Linked DNA regions of Homo sapiens: region 2 is linked to region 1. A link means that fine-mapping ties the variant in region 1 to the expression of a gene that starts in the linked region. Tissue or cell type: whole blood. Region 1 holds a variant in brackets; the other region holds the start of a gene. All regions are shown on one strand. Distances are between the middles of the regions.

What was found. PIP is the estimated chance that this variant, and not a neighbour inherited with it, causes the effect.
Region 2: NUDT12 starts here. The variant in region 1 is fine-mapped to the expression of NUDT12 in whole blood (TOPMed, PIP above 0.99).

What each region holds. Positions count from the first base shown.
Region 1 is chr5:103,530,726-103,536,117 of GRCh38, forward strand. The region is part of intron 2 of LINC02115 (long intergenic non-protein coding RNA 2115); the gene reads right to left. Among named protein-coding and RNA genes, the nearest start is that of LINC02115, 8.6 kb to the right of the region's middle. The variant A/G (reference allele first, on the strand shown) is at 2,438.
Region 2 is chr5:103,559,902-103,565,293 of GRCh38, forward strand. NUDT12 (nudix hydrolase 12) reads right to left here and starts at 2,888. Exons shown (of 7, transcript NM_031438.4): 1 at 2,802-2,888; 2 at 142-353. The coding sequence starts at 347. RefSeq lists enhancers at 2,128-2,660, 2,661-3,191.

The DNA.
Region 1 (5,392 bases):
ATTGTTTAATTATTTTTATGTTTCATTGTTTCCTATATTAATAGAAACACACAATTTTTTGTAAAGTTAGCCTAAATCCAATATTATGAAATTTGTAGCCCTGCTAAAAATTAAGTGGGGTAGGGAGATGGTTTGCCTTCATTACACTGTCATTATATATAACCATATTTAAATATTATGACTGAGTAAACATATTGGTAGAGTTGGTAATTCATTGTAGAAGACCAAATTCTTTACCTTAACTGTGAAAGAAAGGGTTATATTCTCTGTTGATGATGTCTTAACTAATAGAAGATGTTGGAGAAGGCATCTGCGGGAAGGCCATCTCCTAATTTCCCAATTATCACCTCAAGCAGGCACCTGCCTGTGCTCAGAGCTAAGCCTGATTCTAATTGCTTTACTTTAAAAGAATTAATCTGTCTGTAAAGATGAAAAGGAAATAGTTTCCCATGGAGGCAGTTTGCTTTAGGTGTATTTGGCCAGGCTGTGTCTTTGGACACCTCAGTCAAAAAGCTTGACTCTTATTTGTTTTATGTAAAATCAGGTTGCTTTGCGGCTAGTTTTGGCAAAAATTTATTAAAATTCTTCATAACTCATCTCTCTCCTCCAAGTCATAATATCTGTTGATTTAAAATACTTTTTATTCCATAGCCTCTCCAAATCTCTTAATTTTCTGAAAATTCTGCTTCCCTAGGCTGCCTTTCTTATATAGAGCAATTGATACTCTCTTGGCATCTTTCAATTAACCTGTCTACATTCTCCTGCAATAAGCAAAACTACATTCCTGTGGCTGATGAGGTGAGCAGTAATCCACTCTTCTTAGAAGGCCAATGTGGGGATTGGGTTGCGCAGAGGATTACAAATGCACAATTTAATATCTTTCTTTTTTTATCCCTGTCTTACACATATTGGGTTTTCTAATTTAAAAACGCTTCAAAGGCATTTGACTAGGTATAGATAGTATAGAAAAACGTATGGAGGTTACTCAAAAAATTTAAAAAAAACACTACCATAGGATCCAGTAATTCAACTACTGAGTATGTATCCAAAGGAAATGAAATAAGTATTTCAAAGAGATATCTGCACTCCCATGTTTTATTGTATAGCTATCACAAGTCAAGATATGGAATCAACGTAAGTGTCTAACAACAAATGGAGAAAGAAAATGTGGTATATATACATAATGGAATATTATTCAGCCATAACAAATGGAATCCTGCTATTTGTGACTACATGGATAAACCTGGAGGACGTCATGTTAAATGAAATAAGCCAGACACAGAAGGACAAATACCATGTGATCTCATTCATATGTGGAATCTTTAAAAAAAAAAAGTTGATATAATAGAAGCAGAGAGTAGAACAGTGGTTATCAGAGATTGGGGAGAAGAAGGGGTTAGGAAGGTGGGGAGCAGTTGGTCAACGGGTTCAAAGTCTCAATTAGATTGAACCAATGAATTCTGGTGTTCTGTTGCACACTAGGGTGACTGTGGTTAACAGGAAAACATTGCATATTGCAAAACAGCTAGAAGAGAGGCTTTTTGAATGTTCTCACCACAAAGAAATGATAAATGCATGATGTAATGGACACACTAACTACCTTGATTGGATCATTACACAACATAGCTATGTACTGAAATATTAAATTGTACCTTATAAATTTGTACAATTACAGGGCCAAATAAATAAATACTTTTTTTAAAAGCACATGACTAGGTTAGTGATTATTTCTCAATGGTTTCACATAGTTTAAACAGAAAAATGTAGCCTGCTGCACTGAGTTTAGTTGAGAGCACTTGACTTTGACTCAGAATATCTGGGTCTGTACCATGGCTCTGCTGCTCACTCAGCAGGTTGTGTCATATCTGTGAGGCTGAATTTCCTTTACCTCTAAGATAGAAATGCTAACAAAATTTAACTTACAAAGTTGTCTTGAATAAACACAACTGAAAACATTATCAATGGTTCCAGTGAAATGGTACTTGCTATTAACCTCCGTTACAGTATATATACATAACAATTAAAATATACCCTTAATTAGAGCTGAGCAGTGGCTGGCTTTGGGAGACTTGCCATCTTATCAGAGCTGCAGGTGAGGGCTTCAATAAAGCTGACCAAACCATACATTATTTTTGCGCTAGAATGTCTAGAAGTTTTCAAGATTATCTCATCCAAAGCTCTCAATTCGGTATGTGAAAAACTGGGACCCAGACCATCCGTGCTTCCTGAATCTCACTAATGGTGGCAAACCACTAATTAAGTAAGCTCTCTCTTTGAGCAGACACACGTGGTATAGATGCCTTGGCAATATGGTTAGGCTTTGTCAAATTCCCCACCCAAATCTCATTTTGAATTGTAATCCCCAGATGTTGAAGGAGAGACCTGGTGGTAGGTGATTGGATCATGGCAGAGGGGGGCGCTGTTGTGGGAAGCCAGG[A/G]ACCCCAAATGGAGGGACCGGCTGAAGCCATGGCAGAAGAACATAAATTGTGAAGATTTCATGGACATTTATTAGTTCCCCAAAATTAATACTTTTATAATTTCTTATGCCTGTCTTTACTGCAATCTCTGAACATAAATTGTGAAGATTTCATGGACACTTTTCACTTCCCCAATCAATACCCTTGTGATTTCTTATGCCTGTCTTTACTTTAATCTCTTAATCCTGTCATTTTTGTAAGCTGAGGAGGATGTATGTCGCCTCAGGACCCTGTGATGATTGCGTTAACTGCACAAATTGTTTGTAAAGCATGTGTGTTTGAACAATATGAAATCTGGGCACCTTGAAAAAAGAACAGGATAACAGCAATGTTCAGGGAACAAGAGAGATAACCTTAAACTCTGACCGCCGGTGAGCCGGGTGGAACAGAGCCATATTTCTCTTCTTTCAAAAGCAAATGGGAGAAATATCGCTGAATTCTTTTTCTCAGCAAGGACATCCCTGAGAAAGAGAATGCATCCCTGAGGGTAGACCTCTAAAATGGCCCCCTTGGGTGCGGCCGTCTTCTATGGTTGAAACTGTAGGGATGAAATAAGCCCCAGTCTCCCATAGCACTCCCAGGCTTATTAGGATGAGGAAATTCCCGCCTAATAAATTTTGGTCAGACCAGTTGTCTGCTTCAAACCCTGTCTCCTGATAAGATGTTATCAATGACAATGCGTGCCTGAAACTTCATTAACAATTTTAATTTCGCCCCGGTCCTGTGGTCCTGTGATCTTGCCCTGCCTCCATTTGCCTCATGATATCTTATTACCTTGTGAAGCATGTGATCTCTGTGACCCACACCCTATTAATACACTCCCTCCCCTTTTGAAAATCACTAATAAAAACTTGCTGGTTTTATGGCTCAGGGGGCATCACAGAACCTGCCAACATGTGATGTCTCTCCCAGACACCCAGCTTTAAAATTTCTCTCTTTTGTACTCTGTCCCTTTGTTTCTCAGACCGGCCAACACTTAGGGAATATAGAAAAGAACCTATGTGAAATTGGGGGCAGGTTCCCCCGATAGGGGGCAGTTTTCCCCATGCTGTTCTCATGATAGTGAGTTCTCATGAGATCTGACAGTTTTGTAAGTATTTGGAAGTTCATCCTTCATACACTCTCTCTCACCTGCTGCTATGTGAGACGTCCCCTTGTGCCATGATTGTGTTTCCTCAAGCCTCCTCAACTATGTGGAACTGGGAATCAATTAAACCTCTTTTCTTTATAAATTACCCAGTCTCAGGTAGTGTCTTTATAGCAGTGTGGAAACAGACTAATACGCTTGGATTGCTTCTGACCATACAGAGCAAATTTTATAGTCAGTTTTCACTTTAGCATTGAGAAAGCACAACTTTGTTCCAGAAAATTGAATGTACTGTTTCATATGAACCTAGTATCTAGCACAGTGCCAGACACATAATAGGTACCTAATAAATATGCATGAATAAATAAATTAGATAGCACCAATCTGTACCTAACTATAGTTTTAATAAAGTGCCTTCTTGTATTTTTAAATATACTTTCCTTTTACATTGTATTTAATTTGTCGATAGTTAAAATTCTGTTTTTAAAGAAATAAATTGCTCATATTTTTTCCTACTTGTTATCTCTGTTGCTCTGTACTTGCATAAGAGGCATCCATATCAGCTGATGGCAGTGTCTGAAATCACTGGCTATAGGGGTACTATCAATTCTATTTTAATTGAATGGCAGCAAACATTTCTTCCTTTTTGCCTGTTAAACATGGCATGGCTGTAGCTGCATTTTCTAAATTGATCCTAAGCAAAATGAGGAGTGGGAGAAGGTATTCTTTAAAATATCAGGCTTCTGTTTCTGTACCTCTCTTGTCCTGTATGACCCTCTTCCTTCAATATGGTTGACCATTTTATGCTCTCTCCAGCCTCTCTCCCTATTTTAGAAAGGCCTATATAAAGATATAATAAAATGCTTAGAACATGAGCAATGTAGCAACACCAAAGAAAGTTTTGGACTATTAAATAATTTGATATTTGATTTTTCAAAACATTTTAAAATAGTCACTGTTAGAAAAAGTAGAATATTGTTGAACTTCCTCACACATGGTTTAGAATTTGTCATTTTAATTTCACATGGAGACACCAAAATTATTTTAAAGCTTTTCTACAATGATTTCATAATATTTACATATTTTCTATCTCTAAAACTATTTTACACTGTCTCTTCTCCAACCTCCTATCTGTCCTCCTCTTTCCACACTCTCAACGATGGGCTTGACACATTCCTCATAGGAAACAGAAGCTGAATGAAACTCTTTCTGCTTTCCAATACTAATTAATTATTAATTAATACAAACTGATTTCGTTGAATTTATATCATAGTCTATGAAATCTCTTTTATTTTGTGGAAAAAGTAAATGTACCTGAACCATTTTAATGCAATTATCCTCTCCTCTCCTGCAATATCCATTTCTGTCTTTCACTGCATCACTCCATCTACCATCACATGTCACTGTTCACCTTTACAGCAACACATCTTCATGGATTTGTCTATATTTTCTGAGTCTACTGTCTCTCCCCACAGCTTTTCTCAAGCCCACTCCAGGAACTACTCTATCACTTATCCCTACCACTCCACTGAGGGTGCTCTTACCCACATCGACCAGTGACATCCATATTGTCAAAGCCAAAAGTCAATTCTGTGTCATCTTAGGCACACTCTCAGCAGAATTTGACACAACTGATCACTCTGTTCCTCTTGCATCACTTTTTTTTTCTTTTAATTCCATGGTGTCACACTCTTCTGATCCTTATCCTGCTCTACTGGGCATTCCCTCTTAGATTCTTTCGCTGGATCTTCCCTTGCTCAGTCTCTAATCTTTGACATCTTCAGGGTTCCCTTCACTTCTTCATCAACTCCTTCCCTAGGAAATCTTG
Region 2 (5,392 bases), 29 kb after region 1:
TACATTTTTACATAAATTAGCCAATGAGTTATTTAGTAGTTCAACAATATAAATATGGAAACAAGCAAAATTTTAAAGTAAATATGTAACAAAGAAATTAAACCACAAACCCTTTCAGGTGGTACAGCCTAAAATGTTTACCCTTTCTCAAGCAGAAATTGGACTATCTCTGGGTGCCCATTCCTTGCCGCATACATTAAAGCAGTCCAGCCATTTTCAGAAGTTTCATTGAGAAGAGATGGAGAATGACTGAGTATTCCTGTTAACTTGGCAATATCTCCTTCAGCAGCTGAACAGTGAAACTGAGTAACTATTTCTTGCTTCAGACTTCTTTTTACAGAAGACATTTCTTCCTTAAAAGAAGGAAAATCAGGGGAAAAAGCTTATTTGCAACTGCTTTTTTATCAATGAACAATATTGATAAATAGCAATAGAATAATAGCAATGGTTTCCAAGGCAACATACTATTCAACAGGCAATCCTTAAACAGCATACATTTCAATTTCAAAATGTTATCAGTTTAGAATTATAAAATGCAACGCAATTTATATGCCCATGGGAGTTACACAAAATAATGAATAAAGAGCTCTGACAGTACAGACGAGGGGGCCATATCCTTGGGAGGGGGAACCAGGTAACATATTACATAAGGAGGAGGTATTTAGGGTAGACCAGAGGGGACTTCACGATGGGTGGGGACATGAGGGGGAGAGCATTAAAACAGATGGAAGTAAAGGCAGAGACTTTATAAGTTTCACAGGAAAACAGTTTATTGTTTGACCTTGCACAATTAATTCTGTAATCCATCTAGGATCTATTTTTGTTCATGGCATGAGGTAGGGGTCAAGATACTTTTTTACCCAATGCATAATCCATATTACTCCGTATTATTCTTGAAATTACCATCTTTGTCCTACTACACTGAGACAAATATTGTCACAAATCAGATGATCATATATTTTTGGTTCTATTATTGGACAGTTCTGTTGGTCACTTTGTTGTCCTTGAATCAGAGCAGCTTTTAAAACTCATTAACTTTATCTGCTTTGTCACCTTTTTGTTTCGGTGGGGTAAACCCTGAAATAATTGTTCCATACCTCTTAAATATTGCCTAATCATGGACTGCAGATGATAGAGCACACACTGAGCTTTTTTTGTCTTTTTTTTTTTTTGGCGGCGGGGGATGGTGAAAATGGTTCATGATTCAACTGTCTGTGAACTTCTCAAAGTATTTTTTTTTAAGGTATAATTCTTCTTTCTATGAAATGCTATTAAGAAAAGATTTGGGATTCTAACAACATTTCTATCATTCTAAGCAATAAGATTTTTAAGCTAAAAAGACAGAAAGGTTATAGCCCATAGTTTTTGATAGCTGCTGTCTCCTGGGTTCTGAAAGGGCGATCTGGCTGATGAATTGCATAGCAGGAATAGTATGAACAAAATTTAGGGAAAACAAGGAGTAAAGATTAATTGTCTCATTTTGGAGCTGTTCACCTTTCCTATTTGTGTCTTTCTGCTACTTATAAATAGGTTAAAACTGCTCACAGTCATGGAAACACTTGGATGAAACCTAACAGTGGAAATCTGTTTAGAAATTAAATTACCAGAAGTAATATCTACATGACAGAATAATTTTTGATTTATTCTAGAATTTACTTCGCTGTTCCTTTCATATTGAAATTTCTACATACGTTAAAAATACTATGCATAACAAAAGCTACAAATTTTCAGGACTTTATTTTGAAGCACTGCTGTACAGCTCCTGTACTGATCTCCCTTCCAAATTGTCTTTCTCTTAAGTTTATTTTCCAAAAACCCATATTATAGTTTTTTCAGCTAGGTTTAGTTTGAATAATATTTCACTGTCTCATGTTCTGGGGTCACCGTCACTCCCTCACATTCTCACAGGCCGCGCCAGGTAACTGCAAAATTGTCCTTCAAAAATACAGCGTCATTCACTACCTCCAGGGCAATGCTTATGCATATGCTATTCTGTGGAGATGGGAAGTGGAAAGTGTACACTTTTCCCTCTAGCTTTCTCAGCAGAAAAGCCATCTAGAAATAGTACCATTATTCATTCCAGAGAAGCACATAAAGTCTAACACCCAATTCTACTGTTTGATTTACTTTTTCAATTCTCATTGACAGGTTATAGAAGGTAAAGATTTGAAGGCAGAATAAAGTGCTGCCCTTGTTTTCCAAGAAGCTCAAGGACTATTCCGAGAAATCATTTAAAAGAATATTAGATGTAAAGGGACATAAATTTTTAACAAACCAACATCCACTTTTACTGACATGTAACCCGGGGCCCATGACTTCCGCATGCTCACACAGACCGAATGGGACAGGACAGGACCTTAAATATCGCTCTGTCACTGAAATCACTGACCATCAATTAACGAATTTCATCCACTCCCTGGGCACTCAAGACCAATTAAGTGCCACCCGTGCACGGTCTCTGAAAATGGTAAAATGCCTTAAGATATTTTACTTTCTTGCCACTACTGTGAGATTCCTTCTTTCGAGGTGAAATCACACCCTAAGTAGCGCTTCCTTTTCCCCATCTCAGCTTGGGCAGGAAACTCTACGACCTCAGTACCGCCGCACCTCCGCCCTGTCGCGGGAGCCCCTGCAAATGCGTCCGTGGCTCCCGCGCCTGCGCCCACCAAACCACTACGAGGCTCCGCCACACAACTCAGCAGGGCCACGCAGGGCAGCGCGGGAACCAAAGAGCCCAGGGAAGTGGTCACCGCCCCCAGAGGAGGCAATGAGACGACTAACTCCCCACTGCTTCTACTAACCCAAAGGTGACCACAGTAGAGGCAACCAGGATGCAGTCCAAAGATTGGGATATCCCACTCGCTTTTCCTGGAGCCGGATGCAGTCTTCCCGACTTCCGGTGGAGATCCGGGGGTGGGGGGGGGGCGGGAGGGGGGCCCCCGCGGTTTTATGGGAGATGTAGTTTGAAGCCCACAGGTTGTGCGCAAGGGAGAAGGGGTGGAGATTGGGGGTGGAAGTGTTTGGGAGCCGGCGCGGGAGAGATCGCGGTCTAAAGGATTGGAGCTGAATGAAGGGCTGAAAATCCTTCTCCTGAGACTGTGATGTGTAGATAGAACGTGGTGCAGGCGATCGGAAAACTGTAGGCCTAAGGAAACGATTTTAAATTTTCCAGCGTCTCCCACCCAACTCCTAGCCCTCTCTCCAATACAGTCCAATGCAATTGAGTGCTCAAAGCATTCTTTCCTGTTAAATAATCCTGGACTATTGACTAGACCAAGTCACTCTTAAACGAGATATTCGGCCTCTGTAACACCTTAATCATTCACCCCATGGGAAAACTGGTATCATATACTGACGCCTAACTTATTCAGTAGTCCTTTAAAAAGTATGTATCAAGCGCGCAAAACACCTCCTTGGGTTGTGAGGTGTAAATAGGATAATGTATCCAAAGCTCTTAGGATGTTGTGAAGTGCAGAGTGGGCACCCACAACAAAATTATTGTCGTTATTTTTTATTTCAGTTCCTGTGCTTTTATGCTCCAAAACCTACAGAAGTTATGAGTCCGAGATTACAAAACTAGGTGTTGGCGGTCTTCTAACTTCCAGACCAGGGCTTTTTCCTTTACTAAACTCTCTCCTTGGTAATCAGCAACAGCTACAGGGGTCTCTTACAATTGATCACTGTTTCCCACCCAGATTTTACCCTTGGAAGCTCCTTCTCACTGTGAAGCTGTATGCACCAGTTGACATTGATCATGAGGGCTTCTAACGCCCTGTGCTGCTGTTTTTTTTTTTTTTTTCTTTTTTTTAGATGGGTTCTCACTCTGTCACCCAGGCTGGAGTGCAGTAGTGCGATCTTGGCTCACTGCAACCTCCGCCTCCCGGGGTTTCAAGTGATTCTCCTGCCTCAGTCTCCCGAGTAGCTGGGATTACAGGTGTGCGCCACCAGGCCCAGCTAATTTTTGTATTTTTAGTAGAGACAGGTTTTTGCCATGTTGGCCAGGCTGGTCTGGAACTCCTGACCTCAGGTGATCCATCCGCCTTGGCCTCCCAAAGTGCTGGGATTACAGGCGCGAGCCACTGCACCCGGCCGCCCTATGCTTCTTTATGTGACTAGTTGTTTTCAGCCTTTAATGATTTCAGTGACCAGACAGGTGGTCAGAAAGGATTAGTTACTTCACTTGGAGTACCCAATCTTTGCATTCAAACATATGTTAGATTAGTATAGTGAACCCTCGTGTATTAATGATCCAGAGTCAACAACTATTAATATATAGTTCTCCCAGTTGTTAGGATTGTTTTGAAGTAAATTCCAGACCCCATATTGTTTTGATGACAAATATTTAAGAGTAAACTTTTTGGAAATATGTATTATATCTAAAATATAAGGGCTTTGAAAAACAACACAACTTCAATATCCCTAGTATTACAAATTTAACAATAATTCTGTAATAACATAAAAGAAACATTCAATATCAAATTTACTCACTTGCCTCAGAAGTTTTATATGTTTTTCAGTTGATTCATCTGAACAAAGTCTCCACATCACATTTGATTTTTAAAAATCTATGGATTCCTTCCTCTTCCCCTTTTTTTCTGGCAGTTTATTTACTAAAGAGTAATGATCATTTGTTCTGTAGAATTTTCCACATTCTGAATTTTGCAGATTTTATTCCTGTGCTGTCCTTTCCCCCTGTATTTCTTGCAAACTGGTAGTTAACTTTATAGAATTACTCAGATTAAAGTTTGATTTTTTTTCACAAAAGACTTTATAGGTGTTACAGTTTACTTTGTATTGAATTACTTCAAGAGGCTTACAACTTCTGGTTGTCTCTCTTTTTTTAATGTTATACTTGATCATTGGGTTCAGATGTTGTCAACCTGATAACATGTATGATAAATAATAATATAAATATTATAAAAATATGGTAAATGTTTATGATAAATATATGACATTGATATATAATTATGATAAATATAATTATATTATTTAAATATTAAATTTATGATAAATATATTATAAATTTTTCCATCAACTTTTCAGCTAATAGTTTTAGCAGCCATTCATGATTATTGCCTGCATCCATCATTTTGTTATGAGTTGCAAATAGTGATATTCTAATTTGATATTCACTCTACATTTACTAACAAATTATTTTATAATAAAGAACTTCATCTAATTAAATATCTATACAGCTTATATGGAAAGATAGGATAAATGTGCGATTTTCACCATTATTTCCTAATCTTCAGAATAATTAGTTAGTTCCCTAATATCCTTCAGGTAAGTATACAAACGTGCCTTGTTTTATTGCACTTTGCTTTACTGTACTTCACAGATAGTACATTTTTTACAAATTGAAGGTTTATGACAACCTTGTGGCAAGCAAGTA